Homo sapiens: one gene and its partners. The protein of the gene in region 1 purifies or fractionates together with the protein of each later gene. This does not show direct contact. Each region holds a gene or a part of one and is shown in the gene's direction. Other genes may lie near its edges.

Region 1 (3,500 bases):
GTCTCCCTTTGTCACCTAGGCTGGAGTGCAGTGGCGCGATCTCCGATTACTGCAAGCAGCGCCTCCTGGGTTCACGCCATTCTCCTGCCTCAGCCTCCCAAGTAGCTGGGACTACAGGCGCCTGCCACCACGCCTGGCTAATTTTTTTGTATTTTTAGTAGAGACGGGGTTTCACCATGTTAGCCAGGATGGTCTCAATCTCCTGACTTTGTGATCCACCCACCTTGGCCTCCCAGAGTGCTGGGATTACAGGCGTGAGCCACCGCACCCAGCCTTTTTTTTTTTTTTTTTTATTGAGACGAAGTTTTGCTCTTGTTCCCCAGGCTGGAGTGCAATGGCACGATTTCAGCTCACTGCAACCTCCACCTCCCAGGTTCAAGTGATTCTCCTGCCTCAGCCTCCTGAGTAGCTGGGATTACAGGCATGTGCCACCACGCCTGGCTAATTTTTTTTTTTTTGAGACGGAGTCTCGCTCTGTCTCCCAGGCTGGAGTGCACTGGCGCAATCTCAGCTCACTGCAAGCTCCGCCTCCCGGGTTCACGCCATTCTCCTGCCTCAGCCTCCCGAGTAGCCGGGGCTACAGGCGCCCACCACCATGCCTGGCTAATTTTTTGTATTTTTAGTAGAGACGGGGTTTCACTGTGTTAGCCAGGATGGTCTCGATCTCCTGACCTTGTAATCCGCCCGCCTCAGCCTCCCAAAGTGCTGGGATTACAGGCGTAAGCCACCACGCCCTGCCAACGCCTGGCTAATTTTTGTATTATTAGTAGAGACGGGATTTCTCCATGTTGGTCAGGCTGGTCTCGATCCCGACCTCAGGTGATCCGCCTGCCTTGGCCTCCCAAAGTGTTGGGATTACAGGCATGAGCCACCGCCCCTGGCCCCGTGATCTCTTTTTGCCCAGAATCCAGAGCCACACACACTGAGGCTGCAGGAAGTGGGCCCTGGAGCTGAGGATAAAGCCTGGGGTGGGGTGGGGGAGTGGATCCACAGGGAGTCTCCATAAAAACGGACTGGTTTGTTTTCAAGTGTCTGCCTCCTGTTAGTGACAGTCATTTACCCTAGCATTGTGATTCTCCCCCCATCTCTGCCCCTTCTCCGCACCCTTGTTTCCAGCGCTCTCCCCTCCCTGCCTGTTGGATCTCATGCTAAGGTGAGCAGCCCTCAACCTCGAGGCCCCAGGTACGCGGAAGGGACTTTCATCAGTGACTACAGTATTGCCATGGACAAGATTCACCAACAAGACTTTGTGAACTGGCTGCTGGCCCAAAAGGGGAAGAAGAATGAGTGAGTCGCTGCTTACACTCCTCCTGTTCCCTGTGCCGGGCTCTGCCTTCCTACCTTCAGAGGAGGCCACCGGCTGTGGCCACACAGGCCACATGATGCACAACCCCAGGTGGCACCTTTCTTTTTCTTTTCTTTTTTTTTTTTTTTTTTGAGATGGAGTCTCACTCTTTCGCCCAGGCTGGAGTGCAGTGGCGCGATCTCGGCTCACTGCAAGCTCCGCCTCCCGGGTTCACGCCATTCTCCTGCCTCAGCCTCCTGAGTAGCTGGGACTACAGGCAACTGCCACCATGCCCGGCTAATTTTTTTTTTTTTTTGTATTTTCAGTAGATACGGGGTTTCACCGTGTTAGCTAGGATGGTCTCGATCTGACCTCGTGATCCACCTGCCTCGGCCTCCCAAGTGCTGGGATTACAGGCGTGAGCCACCATACCCCGCCTCTCTCTCTCTTTTTTTTTTTTTTTTTTTTTTGAGACAGAGTTTTGCTCTTGTTGCCCAGGCTGGAGTGCAATGGCGCAATCTTTGCTCACTACAACCTCCACCCTCCACCTCCTGGATTCAAGCGATTCTCCTGCCTCAGCCTCCCGAGTAGCTAGGATTACAGGCATGTGCCACCACGCCTGGCTAATTTTGTATTTTTTTGTTGTTCTTTTGAGACGAAGTCTAGCTCTGTTGCCCAGGCTGGAGTGCAGTGGCTCGATCTTGGCTCACTGCAACTTCCACCTCCTGGGTTCAAGCGATTCTTCTGCCTCAGCCTCCTGAGTAGCTGGGACTACAGGTACGCGCCACCATACCTGGCTAATTTTTTTTTTTTTTTTCAGTAGAGACAGGGTTTCACCATGTTGACCAGTCTGGTTCTCAAACTCCTGACCTCGTGATCCGCCCACCTCAGCCTCCCAAAGTGCTGGGATTACAGGCATAAGCCACTGCGCCTGGCCTAATTTTGTATTTTTAGTAGAGACGGGGTTCCATGTTGGTCAGGCAGGTCTCGAACTCCTGACCTCAGGTGATCCACCTGCCTTGGCCTCCCAAAGTGCTGGGATTACAGGTGTGAGCCACCACACCCAGCCTGGGTGGCACCTTTCACCAGGCAAGGATGGGGAGTCAGACATGGTAGCTCTGGCCAGGACCCTGACTTGGGCACCAGTCTAGGCTAGGGGTAGGGACCAGGGCTATTCCCTAATCCTTTACTTCTTTTTTTTTGAGACGGATTTTTTTTGCTCTGTCACCCAGGCTGGAGTGCAGTGGCACAATCTTGGCTCACTGCAAGCTCCGCCTCCCGGGTTCACGTCATTCTCCTGCCTCAGCCTCCTGAGTAGCTGGGACTACAGGTGCCCGCCACCATGCACGGATAATTTTTTTGCATTTTTTTAGTAGAGACGGGGCTTCACCGTGTTGGCCTGGATGGTCTCGATCTCCTGACCTCGTGATCTGCCCTCCTCGGCCTCCCAAAGTGCTGGGATTACAAGTGTGAGCCACTGTGTTGGCCCTAATCCTTTACTTCAAAGGGGAGGAGTCAGAAGATGTATGGGAGCTCAGAGAGGATCCCCAGGGGTCTGAGGATGAAGCAAGGGAGAGACGAGCTCCTTCTAATGACTGCTTGCTTGGCGGTGGCCACTTTAGACTTTGAAAACAGGATTGGCTAGGGCCAGGCCCAGTAGCTCACACCTGTAATCCCAGCACTTTGGGAGGCTGAGGCGGGCAAATCACGAGGTCAGGAGCTTGAGGCCCTCCTGGCCAACATGGTGAAATCCCGTCTCTACTAAAAATACAAAGATTAGCTGGGTGTGGTGGCACGTGCCTGTAATTCCAGCTACTCGGGAGGCTGAGGCATGAGAATTGCTTGAACCCTGGAGGCGGACGTTGCAGTGAGCTGAGATTGCACCACTGCACCCCAGCCTGGCAACAGAGCGAGACTCCGTCTCAAAGAAAAAGGAAAGAAAATAGGATTGGCTGTTCATGGTGGCTCACACCTGTAATCCCAGCACTTTGGGAGGCCCAGGTAGGTGGATTGTTTGAGCTCACGAGTTCATTCGAGAACAGCCTGGGCAACATGGCAAACAAAAAGTACAAAAATCAGCTGGGTGTGGTGATGCCTGCCTGTAGTTTCAGCTACTCGGGAGGCTGAGATGGGAAGATGGCTTCAGCCTGGGAGGCAGAGGTTGCAGTGAGCTGAGATGGTGCCCCTGCACTCCAGCCTGGGCAATACAGCCAGA
Region 2 (3,500 bases), on another chromosome or scaffold:
TGAAACTTAAAAAGATTATGCTAAATGAAAGAAGCTAGTCAAAAAGGACCACATATTGTATGATTCCATTCATATGAAATGTCCAGAAAAAGCAAACATAGAGCCGGAAAGTAGGTTAGTGGTTGCCTAGGCTTCAGGAAAATAGAGAGTAATGGCTAAAGAGTGCAGAATGTCTTTTGGGGATGATGAGAACATTCTAAAATCGACTATGGTAATGGTTGCACAGCTTTCTGAATACACTAAAAACCATTGAATTGTACACTTTAAATGGATGAGTTGTTTAGTGTGTTAATTATATCTTAATAAACCCATTTTTAAAAGAACAGAAAACAGGCTAGGCACGGTGGTTCACACCTGTAATACCAGCACTTTGGGAAGCCACGGCGAGCAGATCACCTGAGGTCAGAAGTTCGAGACCAGCCTGGCCAACATGGTGAAACCCCATCTCTACTAAGAATACAAAAATTAGCCAGGCATGGTGGTGGGCACCTGCCCAGCTACTCGGGAGGCTGAGTCAGGAGAATCGCTTAAACCTAGAATACAGAGGTTGCAGTGAACCGAGATTGTGCCACTGGACTCCAGCCTTGGTGACAGGGTGAGTCTCTGTCTCAAAAAAAATAAATAAAAATTTAAAATTAAATAAATAATAGAAAAGAAGCATCTCTGCCTGGGTCTTAAAGGACAGAGGCATCTTCTGCATCCCCACTCCTACTCCTACCTCTACTCCCTGCCACTGCACCTGTATCAGTTTTAGTTTTGCTGAGGTTTCAGGAGTGGCAGGGGAGAGTAGGTACAGGAGTGTTTACTAGAGAGTCTAGTGAGAATCTCATTCAGTCTGATGGACAGATCTGGGAAGAACACTATAAGCAGTCTTGCCATGCTGACATGGCAAATTAAAGTTGCTGTTACATTCTTTTATTAGGATGATTAATTCAAACCTAAACTTCTCTGATTCTGCATGGCCCATAATGATAAGGAACCGAGTACAAGCCATGGTTCAGAAGGAGCAATCAAAATCACAAAATTGTATCTACAAAAAGACTTACCCACCCCAAGGGGGAAAAATGTGTGGACCCATGAGAATTAATTAACAAGAGCAGAATGCAGCAACTAAAGGCAGTTGGTACCATTTCTGTAACTTTTGCAGAAAGCCAATTAATGGGTCATTTTTATTTCTTAAATGCCCAATTTTAGAGTGCTTAATTTGTTTGAACCATAGGAATGGCCTTGAGAAAATTGAAATGGGCTATTAGTAAGTTATAGAAGTTATAACAAAAGCCATTTTTCAAGATTTTCTCTGCCAACTAAATTTGACAGAACTGTGTTTTCACTTATAACTGGCTATCCATTGTAAACCACATTAACATACTATGGAAAACTTACTTTCTCTCTTTTTCATCAGCCAGCTGTGTTAAGATGCCTTTCAGTTCAGAATGAAATATTCTACTGACCGTCTCCCATTGATACCATTATCAGCAGTACTAGTAGTAGCCTAGTTTTTAAATGATTTGTTAGTGTGTAAAAACTACATGAAGTCAAAAACCAAAACTTCTAGAAAATTTTTAAATATTTTCTCTAATAACATTTTGGTCTTCGTTTAGAGTATTATTGATATTTCTGATATTGAGAATATGTATATCATAATTTAAATATTTCCTAGGAACCAAATTTTGCAATTGATATGCTTAATCCAGTTTATTAAGCTTTGCAAAAATACACTGTTGAATTTTGAGCATAAATTTGTCTTCTTTTTTAAATTGAACAAATCTCTGGATTAGAGATTCATTTCATTTCATTCACTGAATATTTGCATACCGCTCACTGCCTTATATATATCTCAGACAGCAATCTTAACATAGATCACCTTTCACTGATGGAATCGTTGGGAACTTTCCCACATGACGGCAGTCGCCCCCTCCCTTTCTGGTTATCTCTGCCACTATATTTCAAAGAGTCCTGCTTTCCAGCCTGCTTTTGATACAGATAATGTCCCTGTACTAGTCATAGAGATGAGTCAAGAAATCACTAACATCGATTTTAATCTGACACATTAGTTATTGATATGCTGCAGTAGTCATTTGCAGTGGTAGTTACACCAATTTGAACCTAGCCTGCAGGACTTGGAGTCCAAATCCCAATATGTGAATTATATAGCACCTTTAAGACAGTTCTACCTTGTGACCTTCTGCTCCATCCCCCAACCAGATAAGCCTGGGTTGTCTAGATTCTAGGCAGTGGCCACAAATTGTTATCTCCCCATGTTCAAAAGATTGTAACCATAAGACATATATACATTTGGAATTTGTGAGGATAAATTTCTGAGAATTTGAATTTAAGGGCTTAAAGAAATTCTCATGAGGGAGGGCTATGCACTTTTTTTTTTTTTTTTTTTTTTGAGATGGAGTCTTGCTCTGTCACTCATGCTGGAGTGCAGTGGCGCCATCTCAGCTCACTGCAACCTCTGCTTCCCGGATTCAAGTGATTCTCTTGCCTCAGCCTCCCGAGTAGCTGGGATCACAGGCACCTGCCACCACGCCTAGCTAATTTTTGTATTTTTAGTAGAGACAAGGTTTCACCATGTTGGCCTGACTGGCTTTGAACTCCTGACCTCAGGTGATCTGCCTGCCTCAGCCTCCCAAAGAGCTGGGATTACAGGCATGAGCCACTGTGCCTGGCCACTATGCACTTTTGTCTTCGCCTTTCTAGCTCATCATTGAGGAAATCAGTAGTTATTTGCTTAGCATTCAATGATTACTCTTGCTAGAAGTGGTAATTTATTTTGACATAAGACATGCATAATTTTCCCCATCTTAAAAAAAGAACTGACTTTAATCCCACATTTTCTTCCAGCTAACACACCATTCTCTAACATCCCTCCCGTTTTTCTGTTTTGCTTTGCAAAATAACTTCTCAGAAGAGCTTTTCTTTTTTCCCCCTGCTGCCTCACTTTCCTGCCTCCCATTCCTTCCCCTTTCCAGTTTAGCTGTTCATCTTTACCACGCATCGAAAGTGCTCTTGTCAGGGTCACCAGCTGTCTCCATACTGCCAATTCCAATGTGCATTTTCTGGCCTCATTTCAGGTGCATTCTCAACACAGCAGATGTTACCTCTTTCTTGGCACACTGCCTTCTCTCAGCTGTCATGGCACTCGGTCTCCTCACATCTTCCTCCCTTGGCCATTCTTTCTCAGTTTCCCATGCTGTTTCCCCTCTTATTTGGGACTCCTTATAGCTTCCTCTAGACCCTTTTCTTTCCCCTCCTTCTCTCTCCCTGAAAGGTTTTATTTAATCTCACAGTTTTCAAAACCATGAATATGTTAAATACTCCCAAGTTTTATTTCGCCAAGATAGACTTCTCTCAACTCCAGATTCCTATCTGTATCCAACAGCCTACTTTATATCTCTATTTGGGAATCTCAGCTATCTCAAGGATTTAGATATATTCTATATTTTGGGTTGGCTCATGTTCTAAACTGGAATTTATTTATAATTATGTTGAAA
Region 3 (3,500 bases), on another chromosome or scaffold:
CGTGTGCCACCACGCCCAGCTAATTTTTTTATTTTTAGCAGAGATGGGGTTTCACCATATTAGTCATGCTGGTCTTGAACTCCTGACTGCAGGTGATTTGCCTGTCTTGGCCTCCCAAAGTGCGGGGATTACAGGCGTGAGCCACTGCGCCCTGCCTGTTCAATGCTTTTTTGGGAGAGAAGCCAAGCACTTACTGGGATTGGGGTGGGGGGAAGGAAGGAAGACTGGAGGGGCAGCATCTGAGTCTCCTGTGTGTGAGCTCTGGTCCACCAGGCATGTCCCACCCAGCTTTGCAGTTCACCAGACTCACCTACTAAGAAGGAGTTCTGTGCCCCTTGGGGAGGGTCTAACCCTCCACCTCAAGAGGCTCCTATAAAAGTTTCCTTCTACCTCTGATCATGGTCAAGAGAAAATAGTCCCCTGGGCCGGGCGTGGTAGCTCACGCCTGTAATCCCAGCACTTTGGGAGGCTGAGGCATGTGTATCACTTGAGGTCAGGAGTTTGAGATCAGCCTCTACCAAAAATACAAAAATTAGCCGGGCGTGGTGGTGTGTGCCTGTAGTCCCACCTACTCGGGAGGCTGAGGCAGGAGAACTGCTTGAACCCGGGAGGTGGAGGTTGCAGTGAGCTGAGATGGCACCACTGCACTCCAGCCTGGGCAAGACAGAGCAAGACTCCATCTCAAATAAATAAATAAATAAATAAATAAAACTTACAAATTGTTGATTTCTGGAATTTCCCACTTAATATTTTTGGACTGTGGTTGGCCTCAGGTAGCTGAAACGTGAAACTGTGGAGAAGGGAAGAGTATGTAAAAATGTTTTGTGGCGTTCAGGGTGGGTATTAGGCTGCTGAGTTTCTGGGAGTTTCCAAGTGTCATGTGAATAATTGTACAGGAAAGTCTGTATTTCAACAAGCATCCAGTGGTAACTCTGACTGAGTTTACCTTAGCCAGGCAGAGTCCACTTTAGTCAGGTGAAGCTGGTGGGAATCTACCTTAGCCAGGTGAGAGTCTACCTTAGCCAGGTAAAGGTCTACCTTAGCCAGGTGAGGGTCTACCTTAGCCAGGTGAGGGTCTACCTTAGCCAGGTGTTCATCTTAGCCAAGTGAGAGTCTACCTTAACAAGGTGGGAGTCTACCTTAGCCAGGTGTTCACCTTAGCCAGCTGGAGTCTACCTTAGCCAGGTGAGAGTCTACTTAAGCCAGAGATGGAGTTCACCTTAACAAGGTGGCTACCTTAGCCAGATGTTCACCTTAGTCAGATGGGAGTCTACCTTAGCCAGGGGGAGTTCAACTTATCTAGGTGGAGTTCACCGTAGCCAGGTGGAGGTGGGAGCTGGGTGCTCTCAGGTTGGGTCAGGAGAGGCCAGGGCAAGGGAAGTTTATTTTACTCATTCAGCCAAAAAATACTTATTGGGCCTCTACTCCAGGCCAGTGCTGGGCACTGGAGGTTAAGCTGTGGACAAGCTAGACGCAGCCTCTGCCTCTGAGGGTCCCACCTGAAGGAGGCAGATGGATAAGAATGTTCTACATAGTCACAGCTGGGAAGGAAATGACCAGGCAAGAGGAGAGTGAGTGAGCGGCTACCGGACAGGGTGGTCAGGGAAGGATGCTTTGAGTGGGGGACGCTGGAGCTGAACCCTGAAGGATGAGAAGGAGCCAGCCATGGGAACTTGGGGGAACAGCACTCCAGGTAGAGAGACCAGCAAGTGCAAAGACCCTGCAGAAGGAAGGAGCTTAGAGTCTGTGAGAACAAAGAGAGAGGAAGTGGGTTGGGCGGGGGGGGTGGGCAGGACCAGCCAGCACAGGATCTGTGGAGGAGGAAGGTGATCTAATCTCTGTTTTGAAAGTTCCTTCTGTCTGCTGTGTAGAGAATTGACTACAGGGGATGAAGGTGGAACTGGGAGACTAGGGAGGAGGTGAGAGGTGGTGGTAGGTGGACCAGATGGGAGCCAGTGGGTAGTAGGGAGGGAGCGATGGATGGATGGATTGGGCACGCAATTGGGAGGCTGCTGGTAAGCTCAGGGGAGGAGAAGGTGGCCTCGTCGGTGTGGTGTTTGTACAGCCTCTGTTCCTGCCAGCTCTTGTCTGTGGCATCTCTGGGTTGGGATTTGGGGAAGGAGGTCTGGTCCCTTCAGTTGTCCCCATTCCTAGGTCCAGAACGTCTCCCAGTCCATGGAGGTCCTTGAGTTGCGGACGTATCGCGACCTCCAGTATGTACGCGGCATGGAGACCCTCATGCGGAGCCTGGATGCGCGGCTCCGGGCAGCTGATGGGTCCCTCTCGGCCAAGAGCTTCCAGGTGGGTCCTCCTGTGTCCAGACCAGAGGTCAAACAAATGACTGGGATTTGGTATCCATTAGTTCCTACAATGGAGTCATGTCTGGGAAGAATCTAGGGTCCAATATGAGCCACATGTCAAGGGCCAGGTGTGCATCAAAGACAAAGGGTGAAGTTATGAGTCAGAGGTTGGAGTCATGTCTGGGTCAAAGGCCAGGGGTCAGGCTTGGCCATGGTTCCATCTTGATGCACAGGAGCTGAAGGACAGGATGACGGAACTGTTGCCCCTGAGCTCGGTCCTGGAGCAGTACAAGGCAGACACGCGGACCATTGTACGCTTGCGGGAGGAGGTGAGGAATCTCTCCGGCAGTCTGGCGGCCATTCAGGAGGAGATGGGTGCCTACGGGTATGAGGACCTGCAGCAACGGGTGATGGCCCTGGAGGCCCGGCTCCACGCCTGCGCCCAGAAGCTGGGTATGCCTTGGCCCTTGACCCTGACCCCTGATCTCTGACTGCCACACCCAACTCCAGTATCACCTGTTTGTGCCTAGAAGCTGGACACAGTTTTGACCTCTAACTTTTAAACCTCAACCCTTGACCTTCCTACCTAAGGCTACACTTGAGTCCAGAAGCTGGAAATGGCCCTGACCCTTGGCCTCTAACCCCTCACTCACAACTGAACAACATATTGGGACCAGATTTTTGAGTCTTCCCTCATCCCTGGTCCCAGCTTTCCCAACTTGATCACAGCACTTCATCTTTGCCTGGCCTCTCTTGGGCTGTTCATTTCCCCATCCTCATTCCCCCTGTTCCTGCCTCCCAGGCTGTGGGAAGCTGACCGGGGTCAGTAACCCCATCACCGTTCGGGCCATGGGGTCCCGCTTCGGCTCCTGGATGACTGACACGATGGCCCCCAGTGCGGATAGCCGGGTGAGTGACTGCGCCCACCCCTGGGGTCAGGGCCTGGGAGGGACAGAGCCTTTGACTGCCCATAGGTGCCTAGGGAGTCCACACTGGTGACTGTCTTGTAGCCCAAAGTGTCCTGGATCCCCCAGGGCCATTGGACCTCCCTGTCCAGTAACCCCCAAGTGACCAAGGGCTTTGCAGCCTTGTGAATCCCACTCTGTTGACCTCCAGTGTCTGTATAGTGGCTAATGGTTACTGAGTTCTACTGACCAGTTCTCAGGGACTACTGACGTCCAAGTAACTACCCAATGACCA
Region 4 (3,500 bases), on another chromosome or scaffold:
GGATCACTAGAGGCCAGGAGTTCAAGACCAGCCTGGCAAACATGGCAAAATCCCGTGCCTAATAAAAATATAAAAAATTAGCCGGGCATGGTGGTGCATGCCTGTAGTCCCAGCTGTCTGGGAGCCTGGGGCACGAGAATCACTTGAACCCAGAAGGTGAAGGTTGCAGTGAGCAGAGATTGTTCCACTGTACTCCACACTCCAGCCTTGGTGACAGAGCAAGACTTTGTCTCAAAAAAAAAAAGAAAAGAAAAGAAAAAAAGAAAATCCTGTCAGTCAGGTGCAGGGCTCACACCTGTAATCCCAATAACTTTGGGAGGCTGAGGCAGGAGGATAATTTGAGCCCAGGAGTTTGAGACCAGCCTGGGCAATATAGGGAGACCCCCATCTCTACAAAAAAAAGAAAAAAATTAGCCAGGCATGGTGGCATGTGCCTGTAGTCTCAGCTATGCAGGAGGCTAAGGTAGAGGAATTGCTTAAGCCCGGAAGTCGAGGCTACAGTGAGCTGTTATCATGCCACTGTACTCTAGCCAGGGTGACAGAGCGAGACCCTGTCTCAAAAAAAAAAAATAAAATAAAATAAAATAAAATTATGTCATAATAGGACAAGTGATACATATACACATTTGGGGTACTGCTGTCAAATGGGTTAAGCCTGCATTTCATGTTTTATACATTCTAGATAACTTTGAATTAGTGTCTGGGGACCGATGTGGGAAAATAGATCATGAGTTATTGATACCCAGAAAGTACATGTTTTATCCTTAGGTTTATTGATCATCTAATGGTGATGTTTGGTGAAACACCCTCTTGGGACCTAGAGCAAAAATATTGCCCTGATAATTTGGAGGTAAGAGAAGTTTTATTTCGTTCCTCTATGGAATTAATTTTTTTTTTTTTTTTTTTTTTTTTTGCGGCGGGGGAAGCAGTCTGCTTTATTTTTTTGAAAATTATAGTAAAATATACATGACATAATATTTACCATTTTAACCATTTTTAGGTATATAGGTCAGTGGCATTAAGTACATTCACATTGTTGTGCAACTATCACCACCAGCCATCTCCAAAACTTTTTCATCTTCCCAAATTGAAACTCTAAGTACTTCATATAAGTGGAATCATACAGTATTTGTCCTTTTATGTCTGGCTTATTTCACTTAGCATAATGTCTTCAAGGTTCATTACATATTGTATCATGTGTCAGAATTTCCTTTTTTTTTTAAATTTTTGAGACGGAGTCTCGCTGTTTCACCCAGGCTGGAGTGCAGTGGTGCGATCTTGGCTCACTGCAACCTCTGCCTCCCAGGTTCAAGCGATTCTCCTGCCTCAGCCTCCTGAGTAGCTGGGATTATAGACGCGTGCCACCACACCCAGCTAAGTTTTGTATTTTTAGTAGAGATGGGGTTTCACCATGTTGGCCAGGCTGGTCTCGAACTCCTGACCTCAAGTGATCCACTCACCTCCGCCTTTCAAAGTGCTGGGATTATAGGTGTGAGCCACCATGCCCAACCAGAATTGTTTTCCTTTTTATTTATTTTTATTTTTTGAGACAGAATCTCGCTCTGTCACCTAGGCTGGAGTGCTGTGGTGCAATCTCAGATCGTTGCAACCTTGCCTCTTGGTTCAAGTGATTTTCATGCCTCCGGTTCCCAGGTAGCTGGGATTACAGGCATGTGCCACCAAGCCTGGCTAATTTTGTTTGTATTTTTAGTAGAGATGGGGTTTTGCTATGTTGGCCAGGCTGGTCTTGAACTCCTGGCCTCAAGTGATCCGCCCTCCTTGGCCTCCAGAAGTGCTGGGATTACAGGTGTGAGCTACCGTGCCCAGCCAGAATTTCTTTCCTTTTTAAGGCTGAATAACATTCCATTGTTGGGATTTTTTAAATAAAAAATCACAATATCCAGTATAAAGAATTACCTTTTTCTAACATTTGAGAGTAGGATGCCAGCTGATGTCCCATTACCCCTGAATACTTTACTGTGTATTTCCTACACAAAAGGACATTTTTCTTTATAATACCCATATAGCTATCAAAGCAGGAAATTTACATTAATTCACTGTTACCATCTAACCCTCAGACTCCATTCAGGTTTCACAAATTCTTTATAGCAAAAGGGTTTTGTTCAGAATCACATACTGTATTTAGTGATCATGTCCCCTTAGTCTCCTTCAGTATGGAAGAGCTCCTCAGTCTTTCCTCCACTTTTTTTTTTTACTTAAAAAATTTTTATTCATATTTTTGTGATCCTGTGACTCAACTGCAGGACACTTTGAAGATTACAGACCACTTATTTTGTAGAATGTCTGTCAGTATGGGTTTGTCTCATGTTTCCTTCTGACTAGATTTGGATTATACATACTTGTTTGTTTGTTTTGAGATGGAGTTTTGCTCTTGTTGCCCAGGCTGAAGTGCAATGGTGTGATCTCGGCTCACTGCAGCCTCTGCCTCCAAGGTCCAAGCGATTCTCCTGCCTCAGCCTCCTGAGTAGCTGGGATTACAGCTACTCAGATACCACGCCCAGCTAATTTTTTGTATTTTTAATAGAGATGGGGTTTTGCCGTGTTGGCCAGGCTGGTCTCAAACTCCTGACCTCAAATGATCTGCCCGATTTGGCCTCCCAGAGTGCTAGGATTACAGGTGTGAGCCACCATGCCCGGCCTGGATTATGCATATTTGGCTGGAATATTACAGAAGTGATGCTGTATTCTCATTGCACCTATCAGATGGTACATAATCTCCATTTGTCCCATTACTCATGATGTTCACTCTGATCACCTGATTGAGGTGGGGTCTGCCAGCCTTCTCCACTGTACAGTTACTTTTTCTTTATGATTAATAAGTGTTTTATAGGGAGATGCTTTGAAATGGTGTAAATATCCCATTGCTCGTCAGATATTCAACATATTTATTTATATTGGTGGATTTATAGTTTCCTGTTTCATTTAATGAGTTTTAATCTGTTACTATGATTGTTTCTTTTATGCTCAGAATATCCCAGATTTGGCCAGTGGGAATCTCTTCAAATTTGTTTCTGTGTCCTTTTGACTTGTGTCTATTTTTTAAGTGGTTGCTTTCTTACATAGGATGTTCTAGGTTCAGATTGCGCTTTCCTTGCCCCAGCTCTGGAATTAGCTATTTTTTCCCAAGAAGCCCTGGTTCTTTCTAGTGAAGAATGGTATTTAGAAGCCGAGATCTCTGTGCAATAAGTGTATAAGTGTATCGATTAATACAATGGGGGTAGAGAGGCAAGCTTACTGCCTCAATGCCTTCTCAGTGCCACAGCTTGGGGGAGAAAGAGAGAGAAAGAAAGAAAGGAGAGAGAGAGAGAGAGAGAGAGAGAGAGAGAGAGAGAGAGAGAGAGAAGAGGAGAGGAGAGAGAAGAGAGGAGAGAGGAGAGAGAGAGAGAGAGACCATGAAGTCTCATTGGTATCTCCAACTCTTAATTCAACATCCACAGGATTTTTTCTCCCTTTCTATATTTGTAACAATGACTTTCTTC
Region 5 (3,500 bases), on another chromosome or scaffold:
TTAAAATAATCAAGTAATATTTTAATTCTTATTTTTTTAGGTGGAGATGAGTTTTCCTAACTGAAAGTGATTAAATATTTTTAAAAGGCTTTAACCTTGACTGCCAGTAACTCAAAGCTTCAAATAATTTTATGAACAGAAATGACTATAAGAGATTTTCTTTCCTTTAGGCAGAACCATATTTAAACCATTTTAAAGAAATGGTAATTAAACTTGATGGAGAGCCTCATCTACTACTAGGAATTCATGTCAGTTTAATCAGTTGCTGAATTTGGTAATCTTTCCTTGTGTCTAATCTAATTCTTATATCCTAAAGCCTGAGTTCATTTTTTTTCTCTCGTCTCTAGTGAGAGAACACCACTGATGTTTCTTTGTGTAATAATCCTTCATGCATATGGAGTCAGGCTTCATTCTCCTCTTGAAGTTAAATGATCTCATTTCTATTTGTCTTGTCACAGAGTCATATTATTCAATAGTTTTTTCATTAGCTCTACAAGAAGCCTCTCAATTGTTTCATGATCCTCCTTCCATTTTTTGAATATTAAGAGCCCTTTCCAAATTTATCAGTTGTCTTATCTGGTTCCTCAGGGTGCTCACCATATCTCTTCCCCATTTTGGAAGCACTGGCAAAGCTAGGCCACTCTGTTCAACAGGATCACTGATAGCAATGTTAAACAGTGAACACTGGCCTAACCCCAACCAATGACCCAAATCTGTGTCCCCTATTAGTAGTTTGGTCAGTTTTATGAAATCTCCAAGTTAAATGATTGTGAGATCTTAATCTCATCCTGCTATTCTGAACTCTACTTAATAAAACAAATAGCCATTAATAACAGTTTCAATGAATGAAAAATGTTGTTAGTACTGTATTGGTTAAGAATCAAAAGGCCTAGGTCATAAACCCAGTGCTAACACTGACTGCCTGGCAAATATTGGGCGGCCCTTTAGCCTCCTTGTGTCTTAATTTATTCACATGTTAAATGAAGAAATTGAATCAGTAATCTCTAATTTTGTGTTCTTAGCTCTAAAATTCAATAATATTGTGATTTAATTATAAAACTCATTTAACTAGACTTTACAGGGAGAGCAGATAATGAGAAAATGTGCTATTCCTTTTTCATGTATATTCCTGTACAAATAAATGCTATCATTTGGGGGAATCTAAGACAGGATTAGGTGTAGAGGAAGGCTCTGCTACTAAGAACAAGAGGAAATAAGAGGGATGTTTAGCAGAGAGTGTTTCTCACATTAAACTGGTGCCTGGTACCTAACTAATGGAATAACATAAGATTACAACTTGTCATTTATGTTAACATTATACAGTGTCTACCTTGAGTCACTCCCATTCTTGAAAAACAATTTATTGTATGTGAGCAGACTTTGAGTATATTGCACATCATTTTATTGAGTTTATTATGCTCCACTTCTTTCCAAAAAGAATCGTGGTGGCTTGCAACAAAAACACATATAATAAGATGACTAGAATAAAACATGAGCCCCAAGAAAAAAGAAACAATATGCTAACCATAAGAGAGGGCATAAAATAGCAGACTGCATTAGGGACTGGCTGGAAGTTAAATTGTGACAAAGATCCATGAGCTCACAAATGTACAGTCTTCGAAAGAGTCAAGGTCCCTCTCTTGCATATTCTTACTTGACAACAGAGGCAAATTACACAAGGCAAGTACACTGCCCTGGGACAGAGATATTATCTGTTAGAGACATGGCAAGTTCTTCAGTTATCGGAGAAAAGTTCAAATGGAGAAGTCTCCCTGCCACAGAGTCTTTCTTCCCATCCTCCTCTAGCACCCAGTTAATTGAGATTTCACTTTTATTGAATTTTAACATGAACCTAAAATATAGCAGATAAGCTCATGAATCTTTGGGATCCCCTTTTTGTTGTTTTTACTTAAATATTTTTAAAAACTTCTGTATTAGGTAATATACTGGCTTATTTATGTTACTTTTACATGTCCTTCAGAATGATAGCTAGTAGGTCGTACATTAATCTTGCCCAATCACTGAAATAACCAAGGATATACCTCCCCTGGTCTTGCCAATGTCCTGTGATCAGATGATACTAATTACTGATCTTAAGTAGTGTGACATTTGTCCTTTAGTTATTTTGTAGTACCTCAGAAGTTCATTGCCAGCCATCAACAAAATAGTATGCCATTTTCAACCTTTCTAGAAGACTTTAGAAACTATTTTAATCACTACTGTTTGAATAGAAACTTTGGGGTGGAAGTTGATAGATTTGAAAGTAAGTAGATAATGTTACCTAGGAAAGGGACCTATTGAATTACAGATATCCCTGGAGTATACTATATACCCAGACCACAGTTAATATTAGATGGTGAGACCAAAGTATGAGTTCTATTTTAAGCTGTTAAATTTCAACATGAAAGTGCCCTTTATTCAGCATAAATATGGCATTCATGAAAGATGAAATACACAAGGTGCCAAAGAGCTGTGGATCCCTCCCAGTGTGAGGCAGAGTGGGCAATGTTTGATTTTCACCACCTCTTCCCTCCTTCCAGAAGCAAACAGAACTCTACCTCTGCTCTGACTTTAGATTCCCACCCTTTCCTGTAATAATATTGTACAGTCCACTGTTTGTGCTTTATGAGGTACCAGAATTTTAAAATAACCATTTATTTTAAAGAGGGATTTTCAGATATTCCATTACAAGTTCTCCTGAAACCTAATCATTGCTTTCCTTGTATTCCAGTTGGAACTATTGGCTTTGGTACAGGGATGGGGAAATAAAGGGATATGTGTTACATTTATTTGAAAAACATTATCCCTCCATGATTTAATTTTTTTTTACCATCATAGTCTGAATAGTTTAATTATTATATTCTTGGCTAAATTTACAATTTGAGTCTCAAAAAGGCTATTCTTTGCAATATTATTAAAATACATAAATGCTGACTGATATGATCAAATAGTTGCTGTGGAAATCTTATGGATTCTCTGACCTAAAAATCAGTTTCGTGTCAATATGTAGTAACTTTTTCACAGCAATTGCCTGAATTTAAGTAGCTGATTTCTCTTTTTTTCCATCTAAAGAACAGATAGTTGGTTCTGTCATTACGTAAGCATATTTGTTTCATCTTTGATGTAAATATTCAGGAACCTCAGAATTTGAAGCCTAGTATATAGGTAAAAGGGCTCGTATTATCTTTCATTAAATTGAATCATTAAAAAACCTGTTCAGCCCTTTGACTGAACTCTTTTGCTTTCTTCCTTCACATTTTACATTTTTCCTTCCTTGTTTAGATATTGGTTTGATAAACAGAACGGCATCATGTGTCTAAGTGATTTCTTCATTTCAAAGGTACCAATTTTGAATTTTATGTTTCCAAACTTTTACACATATGTGTATGTGTGTGTGTGTTTTTCCCCTTAAGCTTCGAGCTGGTCCATTTGATGAGTTCCAGATTGCTACCATGCTAAAGGAAATTTTAAAAGGTCTGGACTATCTGCATTCAGAAAAG
Region 6 (3,500 bases), on another chromosome or scaffold:
CCCTGCGTAGGGGACATTGGGGTCCCCTTACCTGATGTCCTTTGAGGGCATCTAAAGTAATGAATGCTCTGTCTCCACTGCTGGCAGCATCTGACAGCAACGATGCTGTCGTAAAATTTAATAAAGACAGAGTGCGTGCAAGGAGGAGCCTCACATTTCTCCTTCAGTCTGCGGGGCGTCTGGGCTGCAAGGTGGTGTCAGAGGAGAACCTGGCATACTCGTGGGCATTCATCCTGGGCACACTGGCTGAGCAGGGCCGCTCCCCTCAGGCCCTGGGCATTCACCCTGGGCACACTGGCTGAGCAGGGCCGCTCCCCTCAGGCCCTGGGCATTCACCCTGGGCACACTGGCTGAGCAGGGCCGCTCCCCTCAGGCCCTGGGCATTCACCCTGGGCACACTGGCTGAGCAGGGCCGCTCCCCTCAGGCCCTGGGCATTCACCCTGGGCACACTGGCTGAGTAAGGCCGTGCCCCTCAGGCCCCGGAAGTGGGTTGGCCGTGGCTTCGACAGTTCTCTGTGGCTGATGGCAGTGCGGCCGCGATGCCCTGCTGTGCCATGCTTGCTAGTCATGTTCTTTTCCTCCTAGATCTCCATTTGCCAGGAGATGCCCAGCCTGGAGGTGATCACGCTCAGGTACCTCGCTCCTGCTGTCATGCTCAGCCTGGGGCCTGGAAGCCGGGGCAGAGCCTCACGTCCCTCCAGTGGGACCCAGCACTGTGACATAACCTGGAAACCTCCAACACAGACTGAGGGCGGCTTCCAGAAGGGGAGGGGCCGGGACAGCGAGAGCTGGGCCTACCCTGTGGCCCCCATGTTCAGCCCTCCTTCCTCAGAGCCTCACCTGGGCCTCCTGATGGCTCCTGTCCCCTGCCTGCCCTGCTGTACGCCTGCCCACCCTTGGCCTGTGTGCTCCGATAAGCCATTGCTGTGTTCACTGGGCCAGTCGGTGGTGGAGCCCTCCTAAGGATTCACGGTGGCCCGCCCTGGCCGCCCCCACGGTGGCCACATCTGCCCTGGGACCCCCAGAGTCCTGGCCTCTTCTGCCCCCCAGTGCCACCACTGCCTACCAGTTTCTCTGCACCCCATGACCTGTGCCCGTCTTCTGGGGTCACTGCCCTCCCAGCAGACTAAGGGAAGCTTGAATGAACAAATGTTACTGGACTTTCAGGCAGTTGGGGTGTATTTGGGGGCTCTGGGGAAGAGAAGAGCTCCCTTTATCCCTGAATTCCCTCCTGCCTACTGTGGGACCCACGGAGGGAGCAGACGCTCATGGCTCACCACTGCCCACCAGACGCTGGATGGGCGCCTTCTGTGGGTTTCCGCATTTAAAAGCTCACAAGGGTTTAAACCCTGTGGGGAAGGCCCACCCCTCTGGCAGCTCAGAAGTCTCTAGGGCTTGCCCTCTGAGAGTGGGTATTGCAGGCCCCTGGTCCCTGACTGTGACCTACCTTCTTGATCTCACAGGCAGCCACGGGGTAGGCCAGCCCCTGCCCATCCTCCGTAATGCCCTCTGAGGTTGGCATTGCCATGTTGATGCCCGTGCCCAGCCTGCTGCCCGCCATGGGCTGAGGCCAGTCCATCTGGTGTTCAGGCATCCCCAGCGCGGGCACCAGCCTGTCCTGCCCGAGCCTTGCTGAATGAATGAAATGGGCTTGGAGGCATGCTCATGGGTCAAATCTCAGCCCTCCCATCTATTGGCTGGCTAACCTTGGGCGAGGCATGGCCCTCTCTGTGCCTCAGTTTCCTTTCTGTAACATGGAGGTATTACAAGTGCCCACCCCACAGGGAGATGAGGAGGAGATGGAGCCCGAGTCCAGAGGTTGAGCAGGGGTGCGCGTGCCCGCCCAGAGGTTGAGCGGGGGGGGGGGGGGGGTGCGCGTGCCCGCCCAGAGGTTGAGGGGGGGTGCGCGTGCCTGCCGCGGGGCTCGTTTCACTAGTCAGGCGACACAGTGAGGCTGGGATTTCAGGCCTGCCTCCGAAAGGCTTACCTGACAGGGAAACGTGGAGCTTGTGGTTCCCACGGTGGCAGGAAGCTTGGGGCGGGGCTGTGGATCCAGCCCTATCCCTGCCGCTCACTGAGTCACCCAGGGGCCACAGGGCCTCCGAGCATCAGGCCGCTCGTGTGTGGGGCCATTTCTGTCACATCTCGGGAGGGACAGGACCCCAGGGGTGTTGACCGAGCTCAGGTGCGTGGTGCCTGCACGCCTGACTGCACTGGAGCGGAGCAGGAAGCCTCGAGGCCGCGGACGCGGTCGGTACATCACGCTGCTGCCTGTGCCTGAGGCAGACCCCATCCTGGAAAGAGTCCCACAGCCGGAGTTTTGCTCTTGGTAAAATGGGGCGGCCTCATAGCTAGGAGCTGCATGAGACCTGGGAAACCCCGAGTGAAGGGATGGCATGGGGAGGGGGGCTCAGGACGGCAGGCTGCCCATGGGGGCCTGGTGACCGCCCTTCTGAGGCGCCTGCCGGACGCGAGTGCAGCCCTCCAGGCAGGGGGCCCTGGCTCCGCGCCTTTGAGGGCCTGCGGGAGCGGCTCCGCGTGTTCGCTTGTGGAGGGGACGGACCCCACGCTGCAGGGTAAAGCCTGCAGGTCCCCGCTCCAGGCCTGCTGTTTCTCTTCTCTGACGCGTCCACGTTCTGTAGAATGGAAATGAGGCCCATCCCCAGTGTTGCCGCCCTCAAGTGGGGGTTTGGAAGGTCCGTGCTCACTCCCATGTCACGTGGAGCTGGCTCCTAGTTTTTGCCATGAGTTTTTCTGGCCGCTCCCTGCTTTGGGGCAACATGATATGTCCCCTGAGAGGCCTTAATTTTCCTCACCTGTGAAGGAGGGCCACATCCCCCACCTCCCGCACTCTAGCGCCCTGAGGAGCTGATGTGGAGCGTCGGGCCAAGGGGCTGTTGCTGGTGGGGTCCACCCCAGTCCGCCTTTGAGTTCAGGGCCTGGCCTTCCTACAGCTCTCTCCTCGGCCCAGGTCCTGCTGCACGTGACTTGTGACATCCGATTTAGGCTTCTCAGGAGAGGGCAGGGACACAGGTCCCATGAGTGCCTTTTACTGGGGGTGGGGATTGAGAGGTGGCCCTGGGGGCCCTGGCCACGTCCCTCGCTGACTGTGCTGGTCTCCGTGCAGTGTCAACAGCATCTCCACCCTGGAGCCTGTGAGCCGGTGCCAGCGCCTGAGTGAGCTGTACCTGCGGAGGAACCGCATCCCCAGCCTGGCTGAGCTCTTCTACCTGAAGGGGCTGCCGCGTCTGCGGGTGCTGTGGCTGGCCGAGAACCCGTGCTGCGGCACCAGCCCCCACCGCTACCGCATGACCGTGCTGCGCACCCTGCCGCGCCTACAGAAGCTGGACAACCAGGGTAGGTGGCCGCAGCGGAGTCACCGGCCCTCCCAAAACAATCCCTGGAAGGGGATGTCCCCAGCCCTCTTTTCTCTTCTCCTTTTCTGCAAATACCTGGTCTGGCGGGACATAGATGTGTCCTGTGAAGTCTCCTCCAGAGG
Region 7 (3,500 bases), on another chromosome or scaffold:
TGTTAATGATTGCCAAATGATGACTTTTCTAATTTCATAAAGAGCTTTCCTTATGAAGAGTATTTTTACTTATTTGTGTTTTATATTTTTTTCTTCTAGGAAAGCTCTTAACTTCACTTGCCTTCCTCCTCATCCCTTTTAATATTTTGTTTTAATTCAGTCATTTACTTTCCTGTCAAATATTTCTTCTTCCTACTGACTGTTTTCGAGATTGCTGACTTATACCCTGAATCTGTCAGAGAATGTTACAGTGTTTGGGACCAAGGGTGGTGGTGAGCCATTTCTTAAGTGATGATCACAGATTACCTGGCCTCTGTTACATTTAGATTTCAAAAAAACAGATAACACATGGATACCAGTGAATCTTGAGATTGATGGCCTGAGGAGTATATTTGGAAACTCAAATTATCCCTCCCAGCCACATGACACCCATTCACCCTGGCAGTGAGTCCAGCACATAGAGAAATACCATTCTTCTCACCTTGTCCTATGAATTTGTAGATTTTTTTTAATCTCTCCAAGAGAAGCTTTGTTTTCTCTTACTACAACCAACCAATTCAATACAGTGGTTAACAGTTGGCTTTTTAAGTCAGACTGACTTGGGTTCCATTCACAGCTCTGCCATTTATTGGATGCATGACCATTTTACAAACAAGAAAGCTAAGGCTTAGACCTTGTTAATTATGTGGTATTAAACAAAGCACGTAAGATAACTGTATATAAAATGATGCTAATATAGTGCCCAACTAATATATGTTAGCGATCATCACTGTTATTATTCTGATCCATAAAAATTTACATTTTTAATATTCTTGCATTATGTGAAATTGTTTAACTAGAAACAGTACTTTTACCTTATCAGAGCAAATCGTTTATGTGTATGGCAAAAAGGCAGAAAAAGAGGATGGGTATTCCCTCTAAATATAGACTTATTCTTCCGTTTTCTGATTTGAGATGTGATTTGATAACATGACAACTGAAATTATTCAAAATGTAACATTTACTTTCAAGCTACAAAGAGCCATCCAGGAGCATCCTGTTGTTCTGCTGCCTAGTCATCGAAGTTACATTGACTTCCTCATGTTGTCTTTTCTTCTATACAATTATGATTTGCCTGTGCCAGTTATAGCAGCAGGAATGGGTATGTATTGTTTTTCTGTTTTTTTAACTGTAAAAATTAAAAAGTTCACTGGCATATTCTAGCAGTACTGAGGTATTTGAAGATGATGATGAAAATAGCCTCTCCTCCTTTCTTCCAGTCCTAGCACTGAATAACTTGAGTTATGTCCTTTGTCCTGTGCTTTACTGTGCCTGAACAGACATCTGCAGGAGTTCATGCACACAGGGTTCTTTGGTGTAGGCTTAAAAAATGAGACTGCACTACTTACAGGTATTAGCTGCCTTTTGCTTTTTTTATTTGATAATATATTAATGGCTACCTCTCTAGGCAATAAATAGATCTAACTTTTTAAAGTTTATTTTTAATTGTGATAAAATACATATAACATCAAATTTGCCATCTAAGTCATCTTCAAAAATATAGTTCAGTGGCATTAAGTACATTTACATTGTTGTGCTGCTATCAACACCATCCATCTCCAGAACTCTTCATCTTGCAAAACTGAAATGGTACCCATTCAACACACTCCCCGTTCTACCCTCCCCCTGACCCTGGGCAATCAGCATTCTACTTTCTGTCTCTGTGAACTACTCTAGATGCTTGATATAGGTGGAATCATACAGTACTTGTCCTTTTGTGACTGGCATATTTCACTTAACAGAATGCCCTCAAGGTTCATCCATGTTGCAGCATGTGTCAGAATTTCCTTCCTTTTTGAAGTTGGAAATGCATCTGCTCAAGACCCTGCTTTCCATTTTTTTATATATATACAAAAATGGTATATATGGAATTGCTGGGTCTTGTGGTAATTTTTTTTCATTTTTTGAGGAACCACCATACTGCCTTCCTTAGCAGCTGCACCATTTTACATTCCCACCAAAAGTGCACAAGAGTTCCAGTTGTTCTACATCCTTGCCAACACCTGTTATTTTCTGATATGTTTTATAATAATTTTAATGAGTGTGAAGTGGTATCTCCTTGTAGTTTTGATTTGCATTTCCCTAATGATTAGTGATGCTGAGCATCTTTTTTGTGTGCTTATTGGCCATTTGTATATCTTTGGAGAAATGTCTGTTCAAGTCCGTTATTTTTTAATTAGGTTGTTTGGGGCTTTTTTTGTTGAGTTGTAGGAATTGTTTCTACATCCTGGATATTCACCCCTTATCAGACAGATGATTTGCAAATATTATCTTCCATTTCATGGGTTACCTTTTCACTCTGTTGATTGTGTTATTTGATGCATGGAAGTTTTTAATTGATGTAGTCCAATTGATCTATTTGTTTCTTTGGTTCCCTGGTTCCCTGTGCTTTTGGTATCAGATCGAAGAAATCATTGCCAAATCCGAGGTCATGAAGCTTTTCCCTTATGTTTTATCCTAAGAGTTTTATGGTTTCAGGTCTTACATTAAGATCTTTGGTTTTTTGAGTTAATTTTTGTATATGGTGTAAGTTAAGGGTCCAACTTCATGTCTAACATTAATTTTAATAGCCATATAATATTCAGCAGTGTGGATATTTCATAATTTAGTAGTTTTGCTGTTATAAACAATGTCATAATACATTTTTATATTGGTGCTTTTATTCCTGTAAGATCGATTCCTAAAAGTGGGATTGCTAAGGCATATAAGTTGTTTATCCACTCCCTTTTAGGGTAGCCAGGAAAGCCAGGATTCAAGTATACACGTTTGTTAATAAATGCAGTGAATGGTAAGGTTAAAACTGCCAAGAACTTAAGCACTTTAAAAGCATTTTCATCTGAACAAACTTGTGAGGAAGTTATTTGAAAACTAGGGGAAATGAAGAGAAAGACTATTTTAAAACTGCTGGTAGCAATCTTCCTTTCTTACAAGATTTGCCTTATTTAATCTCTTCCAACAAAAGTAGGTTGATGTTTTTTCCTGGTAGGCAAAAGATGAGAGCGGGTTTGGCCTGGCTGTCCAGAGCATGAAGGGCACATATTGGTCTGTTGTCAGGCTCAGCAGCATGGCTGACTAAAGACATTGACATCATGACATTGTCATGTTGCTCTGCTGTTGCCCCTGGCTCTAGCTGGCCTACTTGTAAAGGGAGTGGTGCATGGAGAAGCACAAGGTAACCTCCCAGTGAGCACCTGGCCCACAGAATCCCTTCTTTTCTATAATTCTATTAGGTATCTCTTATGTATTTTAATGTCAAAGTATAATAATATCATAGGGGTGTCTTACATTTATGAAATCTTTCTTAATAATGTTTGAGTTTAGGCCAGGCACAGTGGCTTATGCCTGTAATCCCAGTACTTTGGGAGGCCGAGGCAGGAGGACTGCTTGAGGCCAGGAAGTTTGTGACCAACCTAGCCAACATAGCGAGACCCTGTCTCATAAAATAAAATAATAAAATATAA

Evidence for each region.
Region 2: the proteins of GIP (region 1) and ARSK purify together in Homo sapiens (affinity purification with mass spectrometry; one large-scale study listed by BioGRID and IntAct). This does not show direct contact.
Region 3: the proteins of GIP (region 1) and OLFM2 purify together in Homo sapiens (affinity purification with mass spectrometry; one large-scale study listed by BioGRID and IntAct). This does not show direct contact.
Region 4: the proteins of GIP (region 1) and TTC4 purify together in Homo sapiens (affinity purification with mass spectrometry; one large-scale study listed by BioGRID and IntAct). This does not show direct contact.
Region 5: the proteins of GIP (region 1) and STK26 purify together in Homo sapiens (affinity purification with mass spectrometry; one large-scale study listed by BioGRID and IntAct). This does not show direct contact.
Region 6: the proteins of GIP (region 1) and CFAP410 purify together in Homo sapiens (affinity purification with mass spectrometry; one large-scale study listed by BioGRID and IntAct). This does not show direct contact.
Region 7: the proteins of GIP (region 1) and GNPAT purify together in Homo sapiens (affinity purification with mass spectrometry; one large-scale study listed by BioGRID and IntAct). This does not show direct contact.

The regions. Positions count from the first base shown.
Region 1 is NC_000017.11:48,962,097-48,965,596, reverse strand, and holds part of GIP (gastric inhibitory polypeptide preproprotein), read left to right. Parts: intron 1-1,116; coding exon 1,117-1,287; intron 1,288-3,500. UniProt on the Homo sapiens protein: Potent stimulator of insulin secretion and relatively poor inhibitor of gastric acid secretion.
Region 2 is NC_000005.10:95,561,601-95,565,100, forward strand, and holds part of ARSK (arylsulfatase K precursor), read left to right. Parts: intron 1-3,500. UniProt on the Homo sapiens protein: Catalyzes the hydrolysis of pseudosubstrates such as p-nitrocatechol sulfate and p-nitrophenyl sulfate. Catalyzes the hydrolysis of the 2-sulfate groups of the 2-O-sulfo-D-glucuronate residues of chondroitin sulfate, heparin and heparitin sulfate.
Region 3 is NC_000019.10:9,856,516-9,860,015, reverse strand, and holds part of OLFM2 (noelin-2 isoform 2 precursor), read left to right. Parts: intron 1-1,840; exon of another isoform or gene 1,841-1,919; intron 1,920-2,154; coding exon 2,155-2,301; intron 2,302-2,533; coding exon 2,534-2,753; intron 2,754-3,102; coding exon 3,103-3,209; intron 3,210-3,500. UniProt on the Homo sapiens protein: Involved in transforming growth factor beta (TGF-beta)-induced smooth muscle differentiation.
Region 4 is NC_000001.11:54,732,861-54,736,360, forward strand, and holds part of TTC4 (tetratricopeptide repeat protein 4), read left to right. Parts: intron 1-768; coding exon 769-850; intron 851-3,500.
Region 5 is NC_000023.11:132,064,802-132,068,301, forward strand, and holds part of STK26 (serine/threonine-protein kinase 26), read left to right. Parts: intron 1-3,413; coding exon 3,414-3,500. UniProt on the Homo sapiens protein: Serine/threonine-protein kinase that acts as a mediator of cell growth. Modulates apoptosis. In association with STK24 negatively regulates Golgi reorientation in polarized cell migration upon RHO activation.
Region 6 is NC_000021.9:44,332,891-44,336,390, reverse strand, and holds part of CFAP410 (nuclear encoded mitochondrial protein C21orf2), read left to right. Parts: intron 1-586; coding exon 587-633; exon of another isoform or gene 634-3,128; coding exon 3,129-3,358; intron 3,359-3,500. UniProt on the Homo sapiens protein: Plays a role in cilia formation and/or maintenance. Plays a role in the regulation of cell morphology and cytoskeletal organization. Involved in DNA damage repair.
Region 7 is NC_000001.11:231,261,712-231,265,211, forward strand, and holds part of GNPAT (dihydroxyacetone phosphate acyltransferase), read left to right. Parts: intron 1-1,011; coding exon 1,012-1,141; intron 1,142-3,500. UniProt on the Homo sapiens protein: Dihydroxyacetonephosphate acyltransferase catalyzing the first step in the biosynthesis of plasmalogens, a subset of phospholipids that differ from other glycerolipids by having an alkyl chain attached through a vinyl ether linkage at the sn-1 position of the glycerol backbone, and which unique physical properties have an impact on various aspects of cell signaling and membrane biology.